Regions from separate parts of the Homo sapiens genome. Here region 2 is linked to region 1. The links come from fine-mapping of genetic effects on gene expression. A gene starts in region 1. The other region holds a variant in brackets. All regions are shown on one strand. Distances are between the middles of the regions.

The links.
Region 2: its variant is fine-mapped to the expression of STXBP6 in fibroblasts (GTEx, PIP above 0.99).

The regions. Positions count from the first base shown.
Region 1 is chr14:25,044,841-25,056,363 of GRCh38, reverse strand. STXBP6 (syntaxin binding protein 6) reads left to right here and starts at 6,217. Exons shown (of 6, transcript NM_001394410.1): 1 at 6,217-6,486. LOC124903295 (a long non-coding RNA gene) reads right to left here and starts at 6,020. Exons shown (of 2, transcript XR_007064091.1): 1 at 5,930-6,020; 2 at 3,774-4,138.
Region 2 is chr14:25,104,404-25,115,926 of GRCh38, reverse strand. No RefSeq gene overlaps it. Among named protein-coding and RNA genes, the nearest start is that of LINC02286, 46 kb to the left of the region's middle. The variant C/A (reference allele first, on the strand shown) is at 4,474.

The DNA of each region.
Region 1 (11,523 bases):
CTTTCTATGTATATAACATTTTCTGTGTGTGAAAAAAGAAATGCTATATTCCATCTGTAGAGTAAAATAGGATTGCCTGTGGCAAAGGCAAGGCTTCTAAGAAACAGCTCAGACTGGAAATTCAAAACACACTCTGGGTTTCCCCCTTCCATTTTTCTTGAAGTTACCAAGATGAGTGGTCATGGGATGAAAGTGCAATATTTATTCAGCATTTGCCGTGGGCCAGATACTGTTCTAAGCATATTACATATGTGCTCCCTTTTAATCCTCCAATTACAACTATAAATAGATCTTAATATGCCTATTTTAGAGATAAGACAGCTGACAGAAAAGTTGTAGAAGATCATAAAGCAAGGAGTTGGAACAGAATTTCAAACCCACATTTGTCCAATATAAAATCCATACACTTTTTACCACGGCATGGTGCCTCCTAATACCAGATTTCTTGGTGTCTCTTGCTGAGGACAGTTTGCTTTTTGTGGCAGCTGTCCTTATTAGATGTTGGGTTACATAGAAAAGTCTGTGGGATTGGCAACAGGTCAAACTTAAAGACCTTTAAGATTCCTTCCAACCTTTACATACATCCTCCCACCATAGTGCCTTTGTATATGCTATTTTCTCTGCCTGAAATTCTCTTTGCTTTTTTTTTTTTTTTTGCCTATTTAACTACTTCAGATTTATCCTGCAGACCTTAGCTTAATCATTTCTTCAAAACAGTCTTCTTTTCCTTTGTTCTGTTCACTGTTTCTACTACACACTTTTTTTTTTTTGACAGAGTCTCACTCTATCACCCAGAATGGAGTACAGTGGCACGATCTCGGCTCACTGCAACCTCCGCCTCCCAGGTTCAAGTGATTCACCTGCCTCAGCCTCCCAAGTAGCTGGTATTACAAGCCTGTACCACCACACCCAGCTAATTTTTGTATTTTTAGTAGAGATGGGGTTTCACCATGTTGCTCGGGCTGGTCTTGAACTCCTGACTTCAGGTGATCCACCCACCTTGGCCTCCCAAAGTGCTGGGATTATAGGCGTGAACCACTGCGCCCAACCTTACTACGCACTTTTAATAACGCAATGTACCTTTTGATTGTGTAACTTATCACAGATGCAATTTTACATTTATATGTGTGTTCTAAATATCAGATTCCTTATCTCTAAAATGAACTATTTGTCTCCTGTCCCCAGTGACTCACCTGAATGATAACAAGTTGTAACTGTTATTTGTTGATTGTCTCTTTCCTCTGTGCTAGGTGTTTGGTGAGGTAATCAAAGATCCTTAAGACTTGTTCTCGGCACTCAAGGAACTAATAATCTGATTGAAAGGGTGTTGCTAAGAAATATAAAATGATTACAGAGCAACCAAGTTCAGGATGTAACCACATCTTTTGCAAGAAAAAACTGCTTTCTTTTGTTTTTTTCCAAAGAACTATCTCTCCTTCTAATCTATGTCTTACTTATAAACACTGGCATATGAAAGCTGATGCAGTTTCAGGAATAAAGTAATATAATTAGAAAACTGGAAAGAAGCTTGGAGAACAGTGGAAAACCGATAAAGGTGAGAAGGAAGAAATGAGAACCACAGTTTGCCACATATCTCAGAAATGTTCCATCTTATAGTGAATGATAGTGGGCCAAAGCTCACCAAATTTGATATCAGCAGTCAATATTTATCTTGACTCTTAAAAGCAGAGCAGAGAAGGAACTATATGTTTAGTAAATTAGAGATAAAATGTGGACCATGTCACCTCAGTCAAAAAAGAAGGTGGACTCCAGTTATAGACAGCTAGAACCCTTAAAGGATAAAACCACAGACCAAGGGTAATTGTATAGGAAACAGAATAGGGTCCCAAATATAAGCTCCATAAGCCCATCTGAATTCCGAAGGTCTCCCAGATCCCATCATACCGATGTTACCAGAAGCGACACATTTCATTCCCAATTTACAAATGGCACATACATACAGTAGGCGCAGACCTCTCCCTAGTCTGGAGGTGCTCACTGCTACTGGCAAGACAGCCATTGTGAAAGTCAAAATGAAATCCTAAACTTTAAAAGAATCCATATTTTTAAAGTAAAAGGGTGAGAAGAAATTACAAAATGTATAAAAATGGGGAACTGAACCAAATGTTCCTGCTCCTCAATATATTATTTCTGCCCCTCACTACCAGGATTCTTTCTCTAGTCATTTTTCAAACTCCAAAATTTTCTTATGGAAATGTTCATTTGCAACTACAAGATACTCTTAAAATTGCATATGTCTTTGGAACGGCAGATAGTCTTGCACACGACTGTGAATTCATTTAATCAAGTTATTTTACTTAGTTCCAACTTGCAGCATACTAAATGAATGCTGATTGTTAAGAATAAAGAGCAAAGACAAGCTGATTGAGATAGAAAAAGGCCAGACAGAATGAGGACAATAGGTACAGGAAAAAGGATTTCAGGAGAATATTGGAGAAGTAAGGTGCAAAAAGAGCAGAAAGGAAAATAATTATTATTTTCACCTATTTCAAGGCCCAGAAAGGCCGGTGCTATACCCCTCAAAAGAGGAAGAGAAATTTATTTCTTTTTCTTGACCCTGTTGAACAGAATAGGCTCAGTTCCTAGGACCAGATGTGAATCTGGTACCATTACAAACCACAAACATTAAATAGGTTTTTTGGAACTAGCTTAGTGACATAGCTCTTGCAGGAAAATGTGATATTCTAAAAAACTTAAAGGAAGTCCTCTTACAGCTCTAGAACAAGGACTAACTTTGAGGAATATAATGAAGATGGAACATTTGAAATTTCCAATATTTTAGAAACTATGACCAACAAAAATGGCAGTTTCATATGGTTCAACCCAAAAGTTAATAAGCTGATGACTTCCTAAATGTCTTATCTGAAATTACATCATCAGAATGAAGAATTTGAAAAGCTACTTGCTACACCATGTAGCAGAAAAAAAAATTTTAAATATAGACTTTACTAGTCTTGAAGACATACTGTGATTGATGATGCATAAGAGATGCTGTTCAAAATAGTCACATTATAATACCCAATTCCAGATCAAGCCCTCTGTGTCCATGTCAATTTATTCCATTTGTTATTTAGACAGCACTTCCTTCAACAGCCGTAGGGAACCTAAGACATCTATATCCATGGGTGTTTTAGGTTGAGGTCGACAGTGGGCATTATGGGTTTCAGGGCAACTTTAGGTGAACTCAGTTTTCCCTTGTATCACTTAATGTGATTAATGTTCACATGGAGGGTTTTGCCACGTGATCTGGCATCCTTACAATCATGAGCTTACTTATGAAACAGGGAAGATCGCTTTTAGGTTTTCCTTTTCTTTCCCAGAATAGCAATTTAAAAGCCTCTAACTTAACATCTAGATGAACCATAAGGTCTTTTTCAGTTCTATCATTTTGTGATTAGATTTTATGGAAAAGAAAATGACTATGCTTGCTCTCACGTGCATAGGGTATTTCTATAACTATATGCAAGAAACAGGCAACATTAGTCTTTCTTGAGAAGGGAAACTTGCTTTTCCTTGTACTGAGCTTTTGTGCACTGAACTTTTTTTAAATACCATGTATTATTTGCTAACAAGAATTAAAAATACAATTTAAAATGTAAGCAAAGCATTTCACTTGTTAAAGTACAGAACCTCTCCCTGCATAAATGTTTAGTTCCTGTTCTTCTTGTTCTTCTTTATGACCTTACCATTATTGTGATTAAAAAAAAAAAAAAATCCTAGGCACTGTGGGAGGTGAAACAGATGCAGAAGACTTTGACGATGGAAATTGCTATTTATTCTGCAAATATTTGTAACTACTTGTTATGTGACAGATCCTGGGCTAGGTACTTCCTCCTTTACATGACTTCTGGAAGGCTTCTTGTTTAAACATCCACGGTCTTTTTTGTTTTTGTTTTTGTTTTTGTTTTCTTTGAGAGGTCTGCATGCTTAAAATGCTTCCCATAGATAAGCAGTGGTTTGTTCTCCATGAATGCAGCAACAAATTAGGTTACCTGCAGGGAGAATCACCTCCCACACTAAGGTAGGTCCCAGGTGTTTGAGGCAGACACTACCGTGATGACCGGTACATGAGTTAGAGAACACTTTGTACAGAGGGAGAGAGTCCTCTTGACTAGATCTGCAATATTGAGAACAAAAAGAGGCAAGTGAAGATAAAAAAGGAAGGTAGTAGAGGGAGATGACTGGCAATAGAAGCTAGTACAGTAGTATCTTACTTCACAAAATTATTGAGTTACCCAAAAGCTGATTCCAAAGTTTTGTAAATATCATCCCAACACATTAGAAAGGCTTGCTAAATTAAAGAAGCTTGCTACTTAGAGCTTTTGTCAAGCAAAAAGGCCCTTATTTCAATTCAAATTTTACATAGATGACTTGTAGGTAAGAACTCTCAACATTTTCAAAGCCCTTAGACATACATTTCTTTGGATTCTCACAAAAACGCCATGAGAATTGTTTTCCCTTCCACAGATGAGGAAAGTGAAGCTTAGAGGTTGAGCCACTTGCCCATGGAAGCCTGGTAGGGAAATGGCTGAGGTTAAGACCAGGACCCCGGCACACTACTCATTGGCACTAAGGTAGCCCCATGACATGTCTCTACAGAGATAGGCAGAGCAAAAGAAACTTACTTTTTCAGGCAATTTTCTCTGATTTTCATAAAACTGTAGCTACCAAATGGGGATACCTAGGGTATCAGTTTTATGATATCCTAGGTATCCCCGTTTCTCCCATTCTTCCCCTCCAAACCATCTTCCTGGGTCTGCTGCCCTGTCCATCTTCACAGAATTCAGTTCGGATTGTCTCCTCCCCCAGCATCTCTGCTATCTCCACGTAGTCTACAAACTAAGTGCAGGAGCCACAGACTGACAGTCAGGACTTCTGCCTGAGCCCCCATCCACAGCTCAAACCCTCTTTCCTATTTCACTATGCTAATGCTTACCCCTTGCACTCCAAACAAGCAGGTCTGTGTACCACCATCTAACACCCCAACAGGGCCAGGCTAGGGTGAGGTGAGTCACAGCACTTAAAGGTTCACCAAAGAATTCAGTAATCAAGGTTAATATTTTAATGGAATATTTAAAAAAATCAAAATTAATATCAAAAATGCATGATGAAAAATAACAAAATTTTAAATAAAGACAGGGTAAGTTTAGGGGTTTTTCCTATTGCTTCAGGCTCAAAAGTGCCTTCCGGGGCACTGTTATCGGCCCTGCAGTGACTCCCCACACAGATACTTTTACTAATGATGTTTCCCAAAAGTTAGTTCTTACAACCGCTTTCTACATTAGTAACGTCTTTCTTCTTGAACGCTCCAGCATTTAAGTGTAGCGCTCTACTGTCAGGAAAACCCATTTCCCCTAGTAACTAGTAGTACTTCGAAGATATTCTGAATCATCTTGGATCCTTTCCAGCACTTTCCCAAACCACAGTGAGCACTCAGCACCACTTCGCTAAAAGAGTGCAGAATCACAATGCTCAAATCACTGTCTGGGGGGTTCAGCAGGGAGGGGACGCAGATATGTTTTGTTTAGTCCAGGGTGTTTTGAGAAAATTGAATTTGTTATCAAGATTTTACAAATCAGGATATTGTACATGAATATACTCCGTCATTTCTGGAAAAATCAGAAAATCTAGCAACACTAGGTCTAATTCTTGCCCGATAGCAAGGGACCCTGAGAGCAGATAAGCGGCCCTGCCTTCGGAGCTCTCTCCAGTTCGCCTTCCCCCAGTTACAGTGCCTGTCAGGCCCCATTAGATCTTTGAGTTTGCTATCGTAAGAATAAAGGAAGGAGCGCACAGGATAAAAACCCATCGGCTGGGTCTATTCGTTTTTTCCTAGAGAAAAAAAAAAATGTTTCCTGGTTGTCCTTTCGAATATAGTCTCACAGAGAAGCTCACAGAAGCAGCCCACCTTTCTAGCCCACAAACTTCCCACAAGCCGTGAAAGTCGCACCGGCTCTTGCACCCAGATCGGTTTCTCCCGGGTCTTTGGCTCAGGGCCCCCGCCCCTACATTGGCCTTTCCCTTCCTCTGCCACCTCCGCGCTCCGAGGCCTGGGGCGGGTCGCGGGTCCCGGCCCCCAGCCCCCAGCCCCTAGCCGCTGCTCTTTGCCCCGGGCCAGGGCGCTCGGGCTCGCCCACGGCGGCACTGAGCATGCTCAGAGGCGGCCGCGCGGGCAGGTTTGCTTCGCAGGCGCTCGCACTCGGCGGCGGGCGGGCGCGCGGCTGCAGCTGGAGCTCCAGCGCCCGGAGTTGGAGTTGCCGGGAGTTTCCCCCCAACCCCTCCCTTTTCGCGCGCGGCAGCAGGAGCCGGCGCGGGAGCCGCGAGCGGCGGCGAGCCAGCACCCGGGCCGGCTAAGCCTTGTCCGGAGCCCGGAGCCCCGCGCGGGGCAGCCCCCCGGGGAGGAGCCTCGTGCTCTGGGACGCGTGCCGCGCACTGGCACGGCAGGGGCGCGAGCCAGGCTGCACGGTAGGACCGGGGCGAGGGGAGCCAGGCGGTCAGGGCGGAGGCCAAGCCCGGGAGATGCGGTTGCAGCCGCCACGGCTGTTGGGGCGCCTGGCGCTCCGTCCGAGGCGGGTGGCTGTGAGGCCAGGGGAGTAGGCAGGCTCCCAGAGAGATTCTTCCAAGTTGGCGGGTGGCGGGAGAGGGGGCCGCGCGCCCCGGCGCAGCTGCTTTGTGCGCGCAGAGAGGGACTCGTGTCCCTGGTTCTCTCCAACCCTGGGACCCGTTGTGCGGGCAGTATTGGGCAAGCCGCAGAACGGAGCGATTTCCTCCGAGAAAGTTGAGGATGGAGCCTTTTTTTCCGCACCGTCCCCGCGATGGCATGGGCCCCGAGAATGCTGCCCCGAGGCTCCCAGTGTGGGGGAGCTCGGGGTCGCTGCGCCTCTAGCTTGAGCGCAGAAATCCGCGAATCACTCCGATCTTCGCGAACTCTGGCATCTTCTAGGAAAATCATTACTGCCAAAACTGAGGCGAGCTTTTCTGGCGGGCACGGCACCCTGCCCCCAGGGCGCTGGCCCTGGGCGATGCCCCCTTTCCGATCTCAGGCTTGGTCAAGGGCGCCAGGTTCCGAATTCGCGCTTGCCGTGCACGCCGGCATCGAGCCTCACCAACACCGCCGGGCAACGTGGCTGGAGTAGGTGGGTGGCTTGATTTTCCCTCCAACCTTTCCTCAGGTTTACAACACCCCGCCACCTCACCACCCCACCCCGTTCATCTTCACAGAGGACAGGACCTGCAGGTGGAGAATTTGGAAAGACATCTTGTTCTTTAGGAGAAAGTCCCCGGGGTGTATCTGCCCTTGGTTCTGGCCCCAGGATTTCATAACGAACCTTCTCCCCTTCCTATTACGCTTCCCTAGGGACTGGGTGGGAGAGAATAGGATCGGTAGGTCCGCAGGAACTTCCATCTCATTCCACCCTCTCCTAAGATTGCCTTCCGGGCGACCCCAGGACCCTGGAACTGGCATTGTGCGGATTGTAAGGCTGTGGAGGATGCCGACGAATTTTTCCTGGCTCCACTTTTTTCACTTCTTGTTTTGAGTTTTGGGGTTTTGCCTGCACACTAGTCAGAGCTGCGCCCTAGTCAGAGCCACCCTGGGGGTGGAGGAGCTTCAGCCGAGGCTGTGAGCTGCTGTTCGTCTCAGAGGCTGCTAGTGGGAATCGGTCCAGAAATGATTATGCAGGCTAGAAATATGCCTCTCTTTTTTTCTTTTTTGGCTGAACACCTTGGCTGTTGGGTTTGTGTGTTACGTTCTTAAAGGGACACCCTCACACTGCTCAAGTGCCAGGATTTAGGGGCTCACCATTCTGCTGCCTGTTTTTCTCTTTGCTTTTTCCTTGAGGGTAGTCTGCTTTGGGGCCGATTTCTAGATGTGCGAATCACATAATGTGGATACACTACACAGTTCTAGAGTCAGACAGACTTGAGGTCAAGTTTCAGCTTTACAGCTGATGACAGTGCTGATGGACAAATGATTAGTCACTCTGAACTTAAGTTTTCTCTTCTGTCAAACGGAGATAATCGTGGCCTTACCTCCCTCCATTGCAGGGTTGTTGTAAACTCAGATGAGATAATGAAAATGAAAAGAGCTAAGAAAACTTTAAAAGCACCATTCAGGTCTTAGATATTGTCTCTGTGCTCTTTACTCAGTTGTTTTGAATGAGCTAATTCTTAATTATAACAAGACATCTAGGTCTTCTCTCCTCTCTGTCCACTCCTCACCAAGTGGTTTAGTTGCTTGGGCCTTTGGAAGCATCTGTTTACCCTTTTTCTTTCTCTATCCTCAAATCCATCTCTTTTGATTTTAAGAATTGGAGCTCCAGTCCTCATATTTATCTGAGGAAGGCAGCATGATGTAGATTAGGAGATGACTGGGGTGGCCTTATCAACATTCAGAGTCCTAGGCCCCAGAATTGGCACGGTCAGAAAGGCCTTAGTTTGAAACTCAAGGCTGATGAAGAAGTCAGCAGATCCTGGAATGGAGCTCTGACTTGACCTCTAATAGTGACCTTGAACTAAGGACTCAAATCCTAATCTGTGAAATCAGTCTATGAAGATTAAAAGCCAGTATCAATTGAAGGCAAGAACAGGTGAGATTATCACTCAGTTAAAAAGGGTTCACACAGGCTCCTGAGCCACCCCAGGTGCAGCATCTTCCCTAATCTTAGGGCAGTGGTTCTCAGATCAGAATCATCTGGAGGGCTTGTTACATCTCAAACTGTTGGGCTATACTGCCAGAGTCTCTGATTCTCTAGGTCTAGGGTGAAGGCCCAAGAATTAGCATTTCTGACTAGTTCCAGATGATGCTAATGGTGCTACAGACCATGCCTATAGAATCACTAACTTATGGAGTGGGAGATAGTAAGAGAGATGACGTTTGTTGTGAAATGCCATTATTTTACTAGCTCATATACAGAGACAAGGTTTCTTTGGGGGTGTGTTGGGAAGTCTCCTTAGGCATTTTATGTTCCAATGCCTGTGCCACTTACCATTATCTAGGTTTAATAATTCTGATTGCTCTTCAAATGGATGTATTTTACAAAGAGGTAGGATTCCCCCTTCTTTTCATACTGTAAAATATGTAGTCTCAGGTTTTAGATCACCCTTGGGTAGTGCCGGATTGGTGACCTTTATAATTTATAAAATCTAAAAACTACCCCATTTCCTTTTTTGGAGAAACCTCAGACATTTGTGGAAAGGAGGTTACGTACAGTTCTGACAGCTTGAACCTTAAGGTTGGAGGACAGAATAGATCACCTAGGGAACAAGTTTAAGAAGAATTTGCAGTGGTGTCTTTTCCGAATGGACAGCTTACCCAGGCCCTGGAAGGAGCATGAAGTACACCCCACGACAAATGTCCCATGGTGGTTAGACCTGGCAAAGCCCTTTCATTCCTTCTGGAGAATGGTAGTGGCATTGGCAGTGGCTGAGACCCTCTCTTCGTCTCTAAGAGGGTAGAAGGCTGGCTTTCAGGGGCAGCTGATCAGTATTAGTGTGGTGTCCTGTGTAACCTAGCTTGTAATGAAGCACTATTGGGACCTAACCCAATCTTAAGCTCTTTTCCTTTTCCCCCACGCCATAGTCCTGTGCTGTGAGCTCACCATGACTTCCTATGACCTAGACTGTGGCCTTGAATTTTGACTGCTTTGCATCAGAGAGGCTGTGGGAGCCTGCTTGAGTCAGGAGGGTTCCTGCAATAACATCCTAAGGAAGAAATAAAGTTTACATAATGTAGTGCCCAAATCAATTAGGTATAAGAGGAGGTCAGTCAGTGCCTTAACTAGTTCTTGTGTTGCTAGGCCAAATGGGATCCCAGCTCACTGTCATGCTTTATCTCAGCTGTCCATTTGTGCTTTGTTTTAGTTTTAAAATGATTAGCACTAGAGAAACCTATCAGTAAATCAGAAACCTTTAAAAAACTCAAGTGTACACTTAGTGTTTTAGTAGATAAAACTTTCAGGCCCAAACCTGTCTTCCTGACAGCAGTCAGCACTTGGTGAAGGAACAGCCTTCTGGTTGTCACTCTTAAGATTCATTAGTTAATTTCAATGGTTTTTCCCACTTAGTATAAGTAGGGAACATTTCTATTTTAAAATTTCTTCCCATAACCTGATGTTTATATTTTGGGTGTTACCCCTGCTTTGAGGGCAGCCTCTTATCACTGTTGTTCACTTTTCTCAGTACATGGTATCTTTGCTCCCTTTAATAAATCTGTTGTGAGACGGTCATTATGACACTTTATTTCTTTTTGGTCATTAGGACTGTTATTACTGAGTCACAGAGAGTCAGGGCCCATTCCTAGAGCATTATTCTCTATGTTCCTAGAGGGTGCTTTTAAACTAAAACACTAGTTATACTGCACTAGCTCATTTCTAAGATACATTCTTTTTCTGATTTCAGAAGCCCAGATGGATCTTAAAAATTATGAACACATTTAGGCCAGGTGCAGTGGCTCACACCTGTAATCCCAGCGCTTTGGGAGGCTGAGGCGGGTGGATCACCTGAGGTCAGGAGTTCAAGAGCAGCCTGACCAACATGATGAAAACCTGTCTCTACTAAAAATACAAAAACAAATTAGCTGGATGTGGTGGTGGGCACCTGTAATACCAGCTACTCGGGAGGCTGAGGCAAGAGAATTGCTTGAATCTGGGAGACGAAGGTTGCAGTGAGCCGAGATCGTGCCATTGCACTCCAGCCTGGGCAACAAGAGTGAATCTCCATCTCAAAAAAAAAAAAAAAGAAAAGAAAAAAAAAGTATGAACGCATTTAATGTGCAGTTTTTTTTTCTTCTGTAACCTAGTATGTTAGTGTAGTGACTATCAATTGATGACATCCTCAAACAAAGCAAGGTTAGTTCCTTATTCTGGTAGAAAATATGGTTTCTACTCAATGCTGTCCAGCTGATTGAATTGCTGAGCAGTTAGCTCAGCAGTTCCGAGAATATGTTGGGTAAAGTGCTGTTGGGGTGGGTATTAATCAGTTTGCTCTTATAAAGGGCAAATCCATTTGGGAAGCACTGCCTATTATTTTTTTTTCCTCTTGTAGAGATTCTCAACATGGGCATCATTATATCAAAGACTATGAGAAGTACTATAGTTAACTATATCAACGACAAAAACTTGGTTACATTTATTCAAGTCAGCGTTTCCCAGAATACAGAATTTTCTGAGGTTATATATGTATCTTTTAGGACTCCATTACTGAGTTAGCACAAACCACAATTTTAATATGTGATTTAATATTGTGGGTGGGATGGTTTCACCTAGTATATCCCGAAAATATAGGGACATTCATTAAGTATGGCTATTAATTAATTAACTCTATAAGTGGTTACTTATTTTTTATTTCAGAGTAGAGAAGAACATTTTAAGCTGTAGTGGCTAAGAAAGTCTCCACGAAGGAGCTGGACTGTGATAATATAAATGGTGGGTAGCACTCTTTGATAGATAAGGGACATTTTAGGTTGGAGGGATAATGAAGCAGGAGTAAAGACTTGCATTTGTG
Region 2 (11,523 bases), 60 kb before region 1:
CCTCCCTGTGTCCATGTGTTCTCATTTTTCACCTCCCACTTATGAGTGAGAACATGCAGTGTTTGGTTTTCTGTTCCTGTATTAGTTTGCTGAGAATGATGGTTTCCAGCTTCATCCATGTCCCTGCAAAGGACACTAACTCATTCTTCTTTATGACTGCATAATATTCCATGGTATATATGTACCACATTTTCTTTATCCAGTCTATCATTGATGGGCATTTGGGTTGGTTCCAAGTCTTCGCTATTGTGAATAGTGCTGCAACAAACATACATGTGCATGTTTCTTTATAGTAGAATGATTTATAATCCTTTGGGTATATACCCAGTAATGGGATTGCTGGGTCAAATAGTATTTCTGGTTCTAGATCCTTGAGGAATCACCACACTGTCTTCCACAATGCTTGAACTAATTTTCACTCCCACCAACAGTGTAATAGTGTTCCTATTTCTCCACATCCTCTCTAGCATCTGTTGTTTCCTGACTTTTTAATGATCGCCATTCTAACTGGTGTGAGATGGTGTCTCATCGTGGTTTTGATTTGCATTTCTCTAATGACCGGTGATGATGAGCCTTTTTTCATGTTTGTTGGCTGCATAAATGTCTTCTTTTGAGAAGTGCCTGTTCATATGCATCACCCACTTTTTGATGGGGTTGTTTGTTTTTTCTCCTGGAGCAGATTTTTTTGGATCTCCTAACTGGAGCAGATTTCAGCATGCGTCTGTATTTCTGAATTAGATGCTGATACAGAATCATCCATGACCTTAAGTCATCATTCTCTGCCTCTGGCTCAGAAAGATAGTTGTATTCTACTGACTATTCACTTTTGTGTTGGGTTTATTTTATATTATAACAGTAATAAATGCTCAGTTTTCTTCCCAAAATTCAAACCATGCAGAAATGCATGAAGAGCAAAAGTCACTGCTCTACTCCTTCCCCATTCCACCTTCTCTTCCCCCAAAATAACCATTAAAGGATACATGTTCTTCCTGGCCTTTCTCTGTGTCACACAGAGGTATATGAGCACATAGGTATATCATTTTTGTTGTTCTTATTAACTTGCTTTTTGCACTCAATACATCCTGGATATCCATCCATGGAAGTATAATTAATTCAACCACCTTTTTAATTGGCTTTGTAAAGGGAAAAATGCCCTGTGATTTGTTTAACTCCTCCTTTGTGAATGGATATTTACTTAGTTTCATTTTTTTTTAAGTATATAATGATTAATTTCACTTGCTTTTTCCTGATCAGTTTCAACATTGGGCATATTCTCATGCTATATTGTGATGCTTCCTTTGAAGGCTATTAGGCTCCTGTGGATCCTTTGGAAGGTTGCTGTGGTCATCAGTACACAGTATCAGGCCACCTGGAGTTAATCTGGAACAAAGCAAACTGAGATTCTGGACAATGGAGCAGAACCATCCTTCATTCTCCCCTGGGCATCTCCCTATCTACCCATAGGCTTCCTCTTCCCTCTGTGAACTAACACAGAGGCTTGTGGGACTTAAATCGATAGTTCTCATGGGGCAAGTCATCAAGTTTGGGGAATATCTTAGTCTTCTTTATTCCTCAATTTATGGAAGAGTATTGGGCAACAATCTCTGAGAATTCTCAAAATGGCATTTAAAAAAGAACATGGATTTTAGAGACAGACAAATCTAAATCCTCCGTCTGTTAAATTCCTGATCTTGACCAAAACATTAAACATTTGTGTTAAGGGTGCTCCCAGGATTGCTGCAAGAATTAAATAGAATATTAGATGCTCAATAAATTTAAGAGTTCCTTTCATCTTCTTGTCTCCTTCTGTGTAGTGCCCTTGAATACCTGGGTCTCTCCTTCAACCCAACAAGGCATCAGTGCCAGCCAATATAGTCTTGCCCTCTCCTTGAATCATGGACTGGAGGCTGCTATTTGGTCTCGGTTCAGTCAGCTGATTTCTCTGAAGACTGGGTTTTTGTCCTTGCTCTTCTTTCACCTCATGTTTAGAAAGGAAAGATTTTCTTGAAGGACACTACTCCACCTAATTGTCCCATCCTTGTTTCTCTAAAACTTAAAAGCCTCTGGATTCCAAAGCCTACCTGACATTGGATCAAAATTCCCAAGCTTAGATTTAGACTTGACCTTCTCTTATTCATCATTCCTTTCGTCTCCCCCCACCCCATCATTCAGTCTCCATTTATGTTTCTGTGCCCCCATTCCCTCCAATCTGTGCCCCCATTCCCTCCAATTCCTGTGCTGGTTCTACCATAGCTTTCCTTTGCTAGAACAATGAGGCATTGCCATGCAGTCCATTAGGCTCCCAGAAGTTCACCTGGGCTGACTGTTTATCTTGGTTCTAGTAAATAATGCTGATAAAGAGAAGGAAGTAAAGTTGTCCAAGAGAAAGGTATGTTTCTCTCTCCTCTCTGTCCCTCTTTCTTGCCTATTAGTCACTCATGGTACAGGAAGCTCCCCTTTCTCCCAAATTGGGAAAATTTATCAGTCTATGGAGATAAATCTCTGACAAAGTCAAATAAATCAATGAGCATACAATTGCTTATTATGGGAGCAATGGGCAAGAGCAGAAAACAAAAATAGCCATTAATATTCCTCAGGTCTGAGATCAAGTTAAAACCTTATAGAAACTAATCAAAGCTTTCACCTTTTTATATTTGTACCTGGCTCTGTTATTATTAGAGTTATATATAAGTGCTTTTCTGAAACATATGCAAATATGATTGCCCGAATGGCAGAGGCATAATGTCAAGCATTCTGCTTTCATTAACAAATCTATCAGAACTTGCCCCTTAGCTTTATCACTAAGACCGTTAGTGTCTTTAAGTATTAAATAATCATAATAATAAAGAAGGAAAATGTTGTATATAATTTGCAGAGGTGCTATCTGTATTCATTAGGATATTATTTCAGCTGTTTAAACAGAGACCAAATCACAATAGCTGAAAACTAGATAAAAGGTTATTTCTCTCATTAAAGTTCAATCGATAGGTTCAGCAGGTACACACTGTACTCCACAAGATCACCCAGGGATCAAAGCTCCTTCTATCTTGTTTTGTCATTTCTTACAGTGTTGTTCTTGTCATGGTCTAAACCAGCTTACCCCACTGCCACATTTATCCATCAGCCTATGGGAAAAGGGAAAAAGGATGTGGAAGGTAAGCAGCTTCCTTTTGGGAACATGATCTAGAATTTTGGACGTTATTTCTGCTCACATGCCATTGGCCAGAACTTGATTGTGTGGCCACACCTTGCTAAGAGAAACTGTGAAATGTAATTTCTAATTGAACAGTCATGTGTCCACTTAGACCTCAGGTGGTTCTGTTACCAAACTTCACCGTGCCACATATACAACTTCTATCCTACTTAAAAATATATATTTTAATAATCATTTCCCCATGCTGTTAATAAATCTTCATGAACATCATCTTTAATGACTATGTAATGGTTGTACCTATGAAAGTATTTCCCTGCTGTCAAACATGTAGGTAGTTTCCAGTTGGGGATTTTATACATAGTACTGCAGTTAATATCTGCCATATGAATCTTTATTTGCTTTTCTGGTTATTTCCTTGGTATTTATTCCTACAGGTAAGACTGTTTACTGAAAAGTTATACCAATTAACCTTCTCCTCAGAAGCAAATGAGGGGGCTACATTTTACACCACCATCACTTGCAATAATTTGGTCTTATTTTTTATCTTTGCAAATTTGAACAATTTAAAATTATATCTAATTATAATTTTAAATTTCATTCCTTTAATTATTAGTGCATTTATTACTCATGAATTTTAACATGTTTCTGGTATTTATTAATTATTTGTATTATTTCTCTTAAGAATTCATCTTTGCCCATTTATTATCTTAGCTTTTTTCCAACTGTAGAACAAGATAGTAATAGTACCTGCATAATAGGGTATGGTGAGAATCAAACAAGAAAAGGAATGACAGAAACTTTGTTTCTTCTGGTTTCTTCTGAACAAGTTCTTCAGACTTGGGCTCAGTCTATGTTGTAGCTACAATGGAGTGGTCTGAAGAGCCCTCATCACTCTGCCGCACAACCCCATCTTATTTTCTTCATCGTACTGATGATGATCAAAGATTCTATTTTTCAATGGTTTACTTATTTTTGTCCCTCCCCTTCCCCACTAGAACCAGGCCCTGGTCTCTCTTCTCTACTCATATTTCTTTATCACCAAAACAGCATCTGCCACACAGTAGATGCTCAATTAATATTTTCTAGATAAATAAATAAACCTCCTTCCCTCACTGCCAGAATCTCTTGACCTTGTTAAAAACTTAGGCATAGTCTTCAATTACCTCTTTGACAAAGACAAGATGTGATGCCCCCAACAAACCCTCCCACATTCATGCATACTCACTGACTCATGCTTCTAGGCTCTTCTTGCCTCAGCCCCCATCTGTCACGCTTACAATCCCAATTCAAAGTGCCACCATCAGTTGCTCTCTAACATT[C/A]CACTGAACTGCATCACACATCTGGCATGGTTTCTACTAAAACATACAAGTTTCTAATTAGGAGTAGTCTCTAATGTAGTCTCTAATCAAGAATGAAAAGAGAAGGCAAAAAAGAGGAGAAGAACTCTGATCTGGCTGACTATAAAATGTTATCCTCATGCAGAAAGGAATGTGGCTGCCTGACTTTCTGGTTGGAATCTGAGAGCTAGCAACAGGCTGTGTTGGTAACAGAGAGCTTTTTCATATCCTCTGCCAGATGATGTGTACTTTTCCACACCACAGGGTGGAACAAATGGAATCCATGACTGTGCTTCTCAATCCAACACCACTGATGTGGCAGGATTTGGAAATTCTCAAGTCCAGCACGTAGTCTTTCCTGCTTATCAGAGCTTATCCTGCTTATCAGAGCTGCTGCAATTAAAAAATATATACTTGTACATTTTGAGATGGATTTTCATGGGGTGTTAGGAGAGAACAGATGTGGTCCCTCTATCTAGAATAAAAGTCTAGTTAATGTCAAATTTTAAATTTGCTTTATTTAGCATGCAGTAAGAGGTATCGTACATTTTTTTCTTCAATGACTTGTCCTGTTTTACTTTTGTTGCTTCAGAATTAATATGAATAGTTTCAAATGCATTTTAATATTTGAAAATTAATTCCACTTTAATTGGCAACTATTATGGTCTATAGGAATAAACGTTTTTGAGACCTAATAATTAAGGAATTAAATTTTAGAGTCTCTTTGACAAATTAAAAAGCAGGGAGAACATATTAATTGTTTTTGGAACTTAGGTCTGAATACTCCCTAATAAAAATGTGAGCTATCTTTCTGAAGTTCCCATGGAAGGCATACCTCCAGTTCTCTCAATTCCGAAGCCTCTCTCAAACTCTGCTTCTCTTCCTGCACATACTCAGTTCCTTTCTGAATTGAATGGAAGTCCTCTTTGGTAAACCTACTTCAAAAGTATGTTCTGACCACCCTTAACCCCAGATCTTCCCATCTTGAAACAAGGTAAAATACCCTCTTCTCTCATTGTTCTATTTAAAAGTGTCTATAAACTCATGAAAAGACTGCATGTTACTTTAGAGTCACACAAGACACATTTTTTACTGGAGATTCACTGGCAAGGGAATAAGTGGTTGGCCAGATAAATCTTTTCATGTGTCCCATTGTCTCACTATGTCCTAAATGTTCATTCAACGAGGCTGTCTATTGTGGCCAACATTCAGCATGCCTGCAACTAAAGCAGACTTTGTTGTTACTTCAGTCTTTTCCAGATACGGCCTGGGATTTACATCTGGGGAGCAAGGATATAGCAGCCCAAGAATAATTAGATGGGGCAAAATATTTACCCTGATGAATAAGGCACTGACATGGCAAGCAAACCAAAATATCCCCAGTCACAGATACAATGACAAACTCTCTCTCCAAGTCCTCCTGTCCTACTGTTGTTTGAGTGATTATACCTAATTCCATCTCAATTCCTCTCAATGTTCCTCACAAATTGATGACCTAATACTTCATGCCAGGATATTCTTGGTTATACTGGATTTCTAAGGCATTTTAATTATCATTATGCGTTCAGGGATACTGATTTCTACAATACAGAAAATGTTGAAACTTACAAGTCTGTGAAACCAGAACTTACAAAACCTATCTTGTTCTGAGTAGCATTGAAACTGTCAAGGGATAAATTGGTATTTAATAAAATTATCTTTTTATTATTACCATGGGAACTCTCCACAGTACACAAATACAGATGCTGACAAGGAATAAAATACCCAGCACCTCTGGCATATATTAATATAAAGGCAACGTAAAAAGACATACAAATATACAAAATTCTAAAATAACTACTCAGGACAATGTTTAAAAGTTTCCAAGGTTTTCAGTTTAGAAGACCAATTTTTTACAAAGTTCTAGTATGTCAACAAAAGTGGGTATCAGTAAGACCTAGCCCAGTAGCTAATGAATCTGGAAAATTCAATCTAAACAGGACTGTCTTTTTTCCATAGTAATTTAAAAGACATTACATATCAGATGTTCCAAGATTATTCTTCAGAAGAGTTCAGAGAAATGGCTTTGATAATGACAGCTTTGAATGTGGGCAGATCTTCATTTCTAAGAGGAAATCTGAAACTAGGTTGTGGCAGTGACAGTCACAGGATCCTACAAGCAAGGTCACTGTTAGGAAAGTCAGTAGCATGCCATCCTCTCAGCTGATAGGAATGGGGCCTTGGGCCTGAAATACTTCCTTACCAAGAGATAAAGAGTCCTCACGGCCTGTGCTGGACTTGTCGCCTTGGGTGGGAATATCTTTCCCTGTTTCAGACTCAATGTATGCTCCTTTGTTCTGCATAAGCATGTGTGTTATTTGGCACCTGGCCAACCCCATGATTATATCTGTTCCCTGTGGAAAGGGAGTGGCATTCTTCCAATATAGCACAAGAGGGGTGTGTGCAGGCCAATGACCCTGTGCCAGCTGCCAGGAGGGACCCCCTGGCCATGGAGGACCAATACCTACCACTGAAGCTGACCTCACTCCATCTCTTTTCTTTATGAGTGAAGCATTGCTCCATCCAGTACTTCACTGCTTTGGGTTTTCCTTGGAGACTCCAATACCAAGATGCAGTGGGCAGAAGTGCTCCTACTTCTGCTTCTGATAATAGGCAACAGATGCCACTTGCTTGACAGTCATGCTTTAGATGCGGCAAGAGTCCTGCCTCATAAGCACCTTAGAATGAGAATAAGTTGAAAATGCTAAGCTAGCTGCAGTAGCAGATGAGCTTCCAAGTTATCCTGCAGGACTTGTAACATCACATAGACATCACTAAGATGGGTTCATCCAGAGGAGATGTGGAGGGAACACTGAACACTGTTTGTCTTGAAGAAGTTGTAGAAACTCCTAGGAAAAGCAGTGTACTGACCTGGATTTAATTTGTGAACCCAACCCAACGGTGAGCCAACAATGAACTCACTGAGTTGCAATAGGCCATCGAGGCCATGTGATCTAAACATTTGCATCATTATTTCACAGAGGCCAGCCTGCCAAACAGCTGTATCAGAATCCACCTGGGGGAACATTCTTTTTTTTTTTTAAATACTTTAATTTCTGGGATACATGTGCAGAACATGCAGGTTTGTTACATAGGTATACACATGCCATGGTGGTTTGTTGCACCCATCGACCCATCATCTACATAAGGTATTTCTCCTAATGCTACCCCTCCCCTAGCCCCCCACCCCTGACAGGCCCCAGTGTGTGATGTTCCCCTCCCTGTGTCCATGAGTTCTCATTGTTCACCTCCCACTTATGACTGAAAACATGCAGTGTTTGATTTTCTGTTCCTGTGTTAGTTTGCTGAGAATGATGGCTTTCAGCTTCATCCATGACCCTGCAAAGGACATGAAGTCATTCTTTTGTATGGCTGCATAGTATCCATGGTGTATATGTGCCACATTTTCTTTATCCAGTCTATCATTGATGGGCATTTGGGTTCCAAGCCTTTGCTATTGTGAATAGTGCTTCAATAAATATACATGTGCATGTGTCTTTATAGGAGAATGATTTATAATCCTTTAGATACATACCCAGTAATGGGATTGCTGGGTCAAATGGTATTTCTGGTTCTAGACCTTTGCAGAATCGCCAACACATTGTCTTCCACAGTGGTAGAACTAACTTACACTCCCACTAACAGTGTAAAAATGTTCCTATTTCTCCACATCCTCTTCAGCATCTGTTGTTTCCTGACTTTTTAATGATCACCATTCTAACTGGCATGAGACGGTATCTCACTGTGGTTTTGATTTGCATTTCTCTAATGACCAGTGATGATGAGCTTTTTTTCATATGTTTGTTGGCCACATAAATGTCTTTTTTGGGGAAGTGTCTGTTCAGATCCTTCGCCCACTTTTTGATGGGGTTGTTTTTTTCTTGTAAATTTATTTAAGTACTTTGTAGATTCTGGATATCAGCCTTTTGTCGGATGGATTGCAAAAATTTTCTCCCAAACTGTAGGTTGCCTGTTCACATTGATGATAGTTTCTTTTGTGTGCAGAAGCTGTTTAGTTTAATTAGATCCCATTAGTCAATTTTGGCTTTTGTTGTCATTGCTTTTGGTGTTTTAGTCATGAAGTCTTTGCCCATGCCTATATCCTGAATGGTATTGCCTAGGTTTTCTTCTAGAGTTTTTACAGTTTTAAATGTTACATTTATGTCTTTAATCCATCTTGAGTTAATTTTTGTATAAGGTTTAAGGAAGGGGTCCAGTTTCAGTTTTCTGCATATGGCTAGCCAGTTTTCCCAACACCATTTATTAAATAGGGGATTCTTTCCCCATTGCTTGTTTTTCTCAGGTTTGTCAAAGATCAGATGGTTGTAGATGTGTGGTTTTATTTCTGAGGCCTTCATTCTGTTCCATTGGTCTATATATCTGTTTTGGTACCAGTACCATGCTCTTTTGGTTACCATAGCCTCGTAGCATAGTTTGAAGTCAGGTAGCATGATGCCTCCAGCTTTATTCTTTTTGCTTAGGATTGTTCTTTGCTATGCAGGCTGTTTTTTGGTTCCATATGAAAATTAAAGTAGTTTTTTCTTATTCTGTGAAAAAAGTCAATGGTAGCTTGATGGGGTTAGCATTGAATCTATAAATTACTTTGGGCAGTATGGCCATTTTCATGATATTGATTCTTCCTATCCATGAGCATGGAATGTTTTTCCATTTGTTTGTGTCCTCTGTTATTTCACTGAGCAGTGGTTTGTAGCTCTCCTTGAAGAAGTCCTTCACATCCCTTGTAAGTTGTATTCCTAGGTATTTTACTCTCTTTGTAGCAATTGTGAATGAGAGTTCACTCATGATTTGGTTCTCTGTTTGTCTATTATTGGTGTATAGGAATGCTTGTGATTTTTGCACATTGATTTTTATCCCGAGACTTTGCTGAAGTTGTTTAACAGCTGAAGGAGATTTTGGGCTGAGATGATGGGGTTCTCTAAATATACAATCATGTCATCTACAAACAGACAATTTGACTTCCTCTCTTCATCTTTGAATACCTTTGTTTCTTTCTCTTGCCTGAATGCCCTGCCCAGAACTTCCAATACTATGTTCAATAGTAGTGGTGAGAGAGGGCATCCTTGTCCTGTGTTGGTTTTCAAAGGGAATACTTCCAGCTTTTGCCCATTCAGTATGATATTGGCTGTGGTTTGTCATAAATAGCTCTTATTATTTTGAGATCCATTCCATCAACACCTAGTTTATTGAGAGTTTTTAGCATGAAGGGGTGTTGAATTTTATCAAAGGCCTTTTCTGCATCTATTGAGATGATCATGTGGTTTTTATCATTGGTTGTGTTTATGTGACGGATTATGTTTATCAATTTGCTTATGTTGAATTTGCGTGTGCATCCCAGGGATGAAACTGACTTGATCATGGTGGATAAGCTTTTTGATGTGCTGCTGGATTCGGTTTGCCAGTATTTTATTAAGGATTTTTCTCATCGATGTCATCAGGGATATTGGCCTGAAATTTTCTTTTTTTATTATGTCTCTGCCAGGTTTTGGTATCGGGATGATGCTGGCCTCATAAAATGAGTTAGGGAGGAGTCTCTCTTTTCAAATTGTTTGGAATAGTTTCAGGAGGAATGGTACCAGCTCCTCTTTGTACCCCTGGTAGAATTCGGCTGTGAATCCATCTGGTCCTGGGCTTTTTTTTGGTTGGTAGGCTATTAATTACTGCCTCAATTTCAGAACATGTTATTGGTCTATTCAGGGATTTGACTTCTTCCTGATTTAGTCTTGGGAGGGTGTAGGTATCCAGGAATTTATCCATTTCTTCTAGATTTTCTAGTTTATTTGCGTAGAAGTGTTTATGGTATTCTCAGATGGTAGTTCATATTTCTGTGGGATCAGTGGTGATAGCCCCTTTATCATTTTTTATTGTGTCTATTTGATTCTTCTCTCTTTTCTTCTTTATTAGTCTGGCCCCTCTGCTGCAGGTCTGGTAGAGTTTGCTGGAGGTCCCTTCCAGACCCTATTTGCCTGGGTATCACCAGCAGAGGCTGCAGAACAACAAAGATTGCTGCCTGTTCCTTCCTCTGGAAGCTTCGTCCCAGAGGGGCACCCACCAGATGCCAGGCAGAGCTCACCCATATGAGGTGTCTGTTGGCCCCTGCTGGGAGGTGTCTCCCAGCCAGGAGGCATGGGGGTCAGACACCCACTTGAGCCGGCAGTCTGTCCCTTAGCAGAGCTTGAGAGCTGTGCTAGGAGATCCTCTGCTCTCTTCATAGCCAGCAGGCAGGGATGTTTAAGTTTGCTGAAGCTGCACCCACAGACGCCCCTTCCCCCCGGTGCTCTGAGGGAGATGGGAGTTTTGTCTATAAGCCCCTGACTGGAGCTGCTGCCTTTTTTCAGAGATGCCCTGCCCAGAAAGGAGAAATTTAGAGAGGAAGTCTGGCTACAGTGGCTTTGTGGAGCTGTGGTGTGCTCTTCCGGGTTCAAACTTCCCAATAGCCTTTGTTACACTGTGAGGGGAAATGGTCTACTCAAGCCTCAGTAATGGCGGATGCCCCTCCCCTCAATAAGCTGGAGTGTCCCAGGTCAAATCCAGACAGCTGTGCTGGCAGCCAGAATTTCAAGCCTGTGGATCTTAGCTTGCTGGGCTCCATGAGGTTGGGATCTGCTGAGCTAGACCACTTGGCTCCCAGCTTCAGCCTCCTTTCCAGGGGGGTGACCGGTTCTTTCTCGTTGGCATTCCAGGTGCTACTGGGATATTAAAAAAAAACTCCTGCAGCTAGCTTGGTGTCTGCACAAACATCCACCCAGTTTTGTACTTGAAACCCAGGGCACCAGTGGTGTAGGCACCCGAGGGAATCTCCTGGTCTGCGGGTTGTGAAGACTGTGGGAAAAGCATAGTATCTGGGCTGGAGTGCATCATTCCTCATAGCACAGACCCTCACGCCTCCCTTGGCTAGTGGAGGGAGTTTCCTGACCCCTTGCACTTTCTGGGTAAGGCAACGCCCCACCCTGCTTCTGCCCGCCCTCTGTGGGC